Linked DNA regions of Homo sapiens: region 2 is linked to region 1. A link means that fine-mapping ties the variant in region 1 to the expression of a gene that starts in the linked region. Tissue or cell type: whole blood. Region 1 holds a variant in brackets; the other region holds the start of a gene. All regions are shown on one strand. Distances are between the middles of the regions.

The links. PIP is the estimated chance that this variant, and not a neighbour inherited with it, causes the effect.
Region 2: it holds the start of CLHC1, and the variant in region 1 is the best candidate, but not a certain one, in a credible set for the expression of CLHC1 in whole blood (TOPMed, PIP 0.74).

The regions. Positions count from the first base shown.
Region 1 is chr2:55,149,763-55,152,521 of GRCh38, forward strand. No RefSeq gene overlaps it. Among named protein-coding and RNA genes, the nearest start is that of CLHC1, 81 kb to the right of the region's middle. RefSeq lists an enhancer at 1,174-1,223. The variant A/G (reference allele first, on the strand shown) is at 1,227.
Region 2 is chr2:55,231,075-55,233,833 of GRCh38, forward strand. It overlaps CLHC1 (clathrin heavy chain linker domain containing 1), which reads right to left and starts at 1,219. Exons shown (of 13, transcript NM_152385.4): 1 at 1,149-1,219. RPS27A (ribosomal protein S27a) reads left to right here and starts at 1,614. Exons shown (of 6, transcript NM_002954.6): 1 at 1,614-1,634; 2 at 1,734-1,798; 3 at 2,289-2,343. The coding sequence starts at 1,751. RefSeq lists enhancers at 1,264-1,693, 1,714-1,893.

The DNA of each region.
Region 1 (2,759 bases):
TCTTGGGCCCCACCCTGGAGCCACTGAATCAGAAGCTCTGTGGGTAGGCCCAGCAAGCTGTGTGTTAACAAGCCCTCATGTACAGGTGATTCCAGTGCACATTTAAGTTTGACAAACACTGGACTATAGCATTAAGTACCCTCTGGAGCTTGCCATCTGAGAGATCTTGTGTTCAGTCCTTATCGCGTCATCAGCAATATTGAGAGCATGGATGTCACAAAGAGGAACAAACACCATCCATCCCTTTAAAGGATTTCCAAGGAGGCCACAACATTACTCTTCCCATTCAGATCACTGAGGTTGGCCAATGCCATACTCTGCTCATACAACATTTCTCTCCTTTCCCATCGCCCCACCTCTGTTCACTCCCGTTATGTGTGTGTCAATTATCCTAACTGCCCCATCACACTGTGATTCCGAAAGCAAGAACCATAGTTTTTTTCTTCTTTATGTAATCTTTGTTTTCTGTGCCCATCAAACCCAGGGAAACAATTAATGGCAATACGACCGGGTCTTTGATTCCTGATTCTCCACCCAGTCACCACTGGGTTATTAGAAGTTCAAGCTCCACACTGGGTCCCCACTATTCCCAAACATGCCCCATGACTACACTGCTCAAGAGAATTATGAAGCCAGGTGCAGTGGCTCATGCCTGTAATCCCAGCACTTTGGGAGATCAAGGTGGGAAGATCACTTGAGTCCAGGAGTTTGAGACCAGCCTGGTAACATGGTGAAACCCCATCTCTACAAAAAATTAGCCAGGCATTATGGCACATGCCTGTAGTCCCAGCTGCTCAGGAGGTTGATGTGGGAGGACCGCTTGAGCCCAGGAGGTTGAGGCTGCAGTGAGCTGTGACTAATAAAAGAAAAGAAAAAAAAAAGGCGGGGCACAGTGGCCCATGCCTGTAACCCCAGCACTTTGGGAGGCTGAGGCGGGTGGATCACCTGAGGTCAGGAGTTTGAGACCAGCCTGGCCAACATGGAGAAACCCCATCTCTACTAAAAATACCAAAAATTAGCCAGATGTGGTGGCAGGCACCTGTAATCCCAGCTACTTAGGAGGCTGAGGCAGGAGAATCACTTGAGGTGGGGGTTGCAGTGAGCCGAGACTGTGCCACTGCACTCCAGCCTGGGCAACAGAGCAAGACTCCATCTCAAAAAAAAAAAAAAAAAAAGAAAGAGAGAGAGAGAGAGAGAGAGAATTATGGTCCCTCACTACTTCCCCT[A/G]GTGAAAAGAGGAGACCAACAGAGCCCACTGCTGCTGGCAGCAGAGACCAAGGCCTTGTCTCCCACTGGCCTGTCGCTCACCACGTCTCACAGCTCAGCTTTCACTTCTGTCTTTCATTGCAGAAGGGGAAGCATCTCTTTTCACCAGTGATGACAATTCCTGAGTCCTATAAGACTCCTCCCATCTGCCAAAGAAGTCTGATATTTTCAACACCTGTGAAAAGATGGGAAAAAAAGAAATCTGGTATTTATAGCTCTGTCTGCAGATGACTGAGGCATTCTCAGAACTAGACAAGACAGTATTGAACAATACCTTCCAATGTCTTACTCCCACCAACCGTGAGCTGGTTGTTCAAGGTCAGGATAAACAGAGATGTAAATTTCTTCCACCCCACAGTAAGTTCCTTCTCCATGTAGGGTATCAGGATCATCCACTCTCTCCCCTCTTGGTGTATAATTATGAATATACATGAAATTTTTACAATCCTAGGACTCAACTTAAGTTTCAAAGTAAATCTTAGGAGACTCTCAGAAAAAGATAAGCGCTGATGGCCTTTCCTGATGGCCTAGAGCTCCTGGAGAGGTGGATCCTCATTACATTCCTTCTCTGTGGTGCCTATCATGGCACTTTCACCATGTGAAAAAAGGGAAATGTTCGACAAGCAAATAAATGCATTATCAAAATTTCGTCTCATCTTAGAAAATGCAAAGCAAAGCCCAGAAGAGAAGGCCCATACGGGTAGTTAGTTTTTAGGAAAAAGTGAGTAGAAGGAAAGTTGGGCAGGTCCCTGCCTGGGCAGTGCATATTCAGATGTGCAACAGGCATGTAGGGGGAAGGGAGGCTGGAGGCCTGAGGCCTGGGCAGGTGGAGAAGGGCATGTGAAGAAAATGGACATATTGGGGCTGAAAGAGGGAAACAATAATGTGGAAAAATGAGACAGGAAAAGAAAAAGAAGTCAACATGGGAAGATGCCAAATATCTATTTTGCCAAGCCTGCAGCTAGCTCAACAGAGAGGACCAGAGTAGAGAAGTTTCAGTATAAACAAGTAAGAAAATGACCTGGGATTTCTGTACAAATGACTCTGTCCTCCAAAGACAGGCAGGGGTAAGAGTCTGTGTCACCCAAATATCTAAGAATCCACTGTGGAGGTCCTAGTCTTAGTTCTGGTCTACATTGTCTATCCTCTCTGGATCCCACAAGACTTAAGAGTATTTATCATACTTTGCCTATGAGAGTGCAGCTGCCTCCTGCTCTGGAGTATACACTTGTTCTTGGCAAGAGCAACATCTCACAATGAGTTTCCAGCCATCACAACACCTAGAAGGGTATGAGCACAGTGTAGACACTTGCTGATGGGACTGCAATCAGAGGTGAAAACCAGAAAAGTGGTGCAGACTTTTCAATCAGCCTTGCAGGAGACAGCACTAATTTTGCCACCCTAAAAACCTTTCTTCAAGCTCAAACACCTAGTCCAAAGGATATATCTGTCTGTTAAATATGCTCGCAGGGCTGCTCAGATGAGACAGTCAAT
Region 2 (2,759 bases), 81 kb after region 1:
CCCCATCTCTACTAAAAATACAAAAATTAGCCGGGTGTGGTGGTGGGCGCCTGTAATCCCAGCTACTCGGGAGGCTGAGGCAGAAGAATTGCTTGAACCTGGGAGGCGGAGTTTACAGTGAGCCGAGACCGCGCCACTGCACTCCAGCCTGGGCAACAGAGCGAAATTCCGTCTCACGAAAAAAAAAAAAAAAAGTTCCAGGAAGAATAAACGACTGGATTCTTCAGAAATGCCAAAACACGGGAGGGCATAGGTCAGGAAATTAAATTAGCTTCATTTACTAAAATGTAGAGTAATGGGTTTAGCAGATTAGGTTGTAAGGAAGGCAGAGGCTGAATGTCATTCTAAGAAATTTGAATTGTATCCTGAAGGTGAGGTATAAAATAATAACACACATTTACCTTTCAGAATGAATATTTTGGAGGCAATAGTGAAGGTGGGTTAGAAAGGAGGAAAGACTGGAGAGAGATAAGGAGTTAGATTCGGAACCCCTACAAGAGAAAATTAAGGTCTGAATTTGGGGATGGGGTCGCAGAGGGCAGAGGATGAAGAAATAAATACAGAAGACATTAGAAAGGACTCTGGTTTGTGGAGTGGAGAAAGGACAGGGAGAACTTGCTTCTAATTGGCCTCCTTGCCGGAAGAAGCACCCCATACATACTCCAAAAACTTCCTCTCAGATCCAAGACTCCCAATGCCCAAATTTGGAAATTCTACAACTAAATAACCATTCTGCAGGTTTCTTTTCCGTACGGCTTCACTTTAAAATTTGAAAACTCCTGAGATTTTTCAACATATTAAAGCGTGTCACACTAAGGAGTGACACACAAGACCCAGACTCTTCCCTAGGCTGGGAGAGACTCGGCGGTTGAAAGCAGGGAGGCGCTACAGGAGAGAAAGGGCTGAACCCCCGCTTCCGCAGATTTCACCTATTTTTCAGTTTGCCTGGAGCAGGCCACGCAAATTCCCTTCCCTTGAAGGCCCAAGGAGCGTCTGGTAGATTGCTGATTCTCTGCCCATCACCGCTTCTGGAAGTGAGTGAAGGACACCTTTCGTGCCCCGCACCCTTTGCCCCCCGCTTAACATTTGCTCTAGTCACTTCCGGCCCGTTCCCACGCTCCGGAAACCATTATTCCGCTTCATCCTACCTCCAGTCCTCACCTGAGTCCTTTTCTCCAAACACCGACTTCAGTGCTTAGAGATAGTAACTAGGGAATCTGGGAGGTGGAACTGCATCTTGGGACAAGTAGTCCAAGGTAGAAGAAAGCAGTGGAGAACTACAGTTCCCAGAATGCACTTCCATTTCCTACCTCTTCCCCAAGAGGCCCCCCTCGACCTCCTTTTAAAAATTCTCTTAGCCACGTTGATTGTACGGGAAAAGCCTTTTTAAAACATCTTTTACGTTGCTTAAACCTACAGTTTCGAAAGCATTCCGAAGGCTAAAGTGAGAAATAAGCCCAGGCTAGGGAGAGGAGAAACGAAGTTCACGTCCTAGTCTGGCACCGGGTTGGATTGTCGCTGGGACGGCAGTCAGGCATTTGGTGTGGTCGCCTAAGGGGTGGGTCCTTCGGCGGGAGCTCCGGGAAACCCCGTGGGCCTGCGCGGCGTTCTTCCTTTTCGATCCGCCATCTGCGGTGGGTGTCTGCACTTCGGCTGCTCTCGGGTTAGCACCCTATGGTGCCTTCTCTTGTGATCCCTGACCTAACCTGTCTCTTCCTTTTCCTCAACCTCAGGTGGAGCCGCCACCAAAATGCAGATTTTCGTGAAAACCCTTACGGGGAAGACCATCACCCTCGAGGTACGGGCCGGGTGGTCATGAGGAAGCCAAGGTCCGAATAAGGTCCTGAGGTGGATTTTAGGACCGGCGCTGCTTTCCATGTCTTAGACCATGATTCCGAATTTGGGTTCTAAAACTTAAGCTTTGAAATGAGTACCTTTTGCTGAGCAACGACCTAGAGGTGATTTTCGGTGGCCAAAGGCTGGACCTGTCTCCTCTCGAGGGGTTCCAGCTAGTTAGTTAAAACGGAGGAGCTGCGGTGGGGAAGGAGACGCTCTGCCCGCCGGGTGCGAGCACGTGTGGCCCTGCGGCCGCCGCCCGCTCTGGGCTGGGGAGATGAAGGTGCTTTCCGGTAGCCGACTTGGGAGGTTGCCCACTGGGTGGGTAATAGGTCTCTCGAGTAGGTCTCAGCCCTGTCGCTGGTTCGGTTCAGTGGTAATTGTCAAACTAAATGAGTTCTGCTGTAGTTCCTTAATGTGTAACCAACATGCTTTCACTTTAACACTCATAGGTTGAACCCTCGGATACGATAGAAAATGTAAAGGCCAAGATCCAGGATAAGGAAGGCAAGTAGTATTTTGTAGTTAAGAAAACTTAACCTGCGGAGACTTCGGCCTACCTGTAGGTGCTAGACATACCTGCTCTTGGTGATGGGGGAAGGGGTCAGATTGACAAAGCGAAATACTTGTGGAATAACACAATAGACATTGGTGATCGGGGAGCACAGTACCTAGATTGGAATCCTTGAGGTGTATTTCACTTGCGTGAATTTGGACACTTATTTATTTATTTTGTGTGAGATGGAGTCTCCTCTGTCGCCCAGGCTGGAGTGCATTCGCTTGTCCCGGCTTACTGCAGCCTCCGCCTCCCGGGTTCAAGTGATTTTTGTGCTTCAGCCTCCCTATTAGTGGGGATTACAGGCGTGCACCACCATGCCTGGCTAATTTATTGTATTTTTAGTAGAGACTGGGTTTTACCTTGT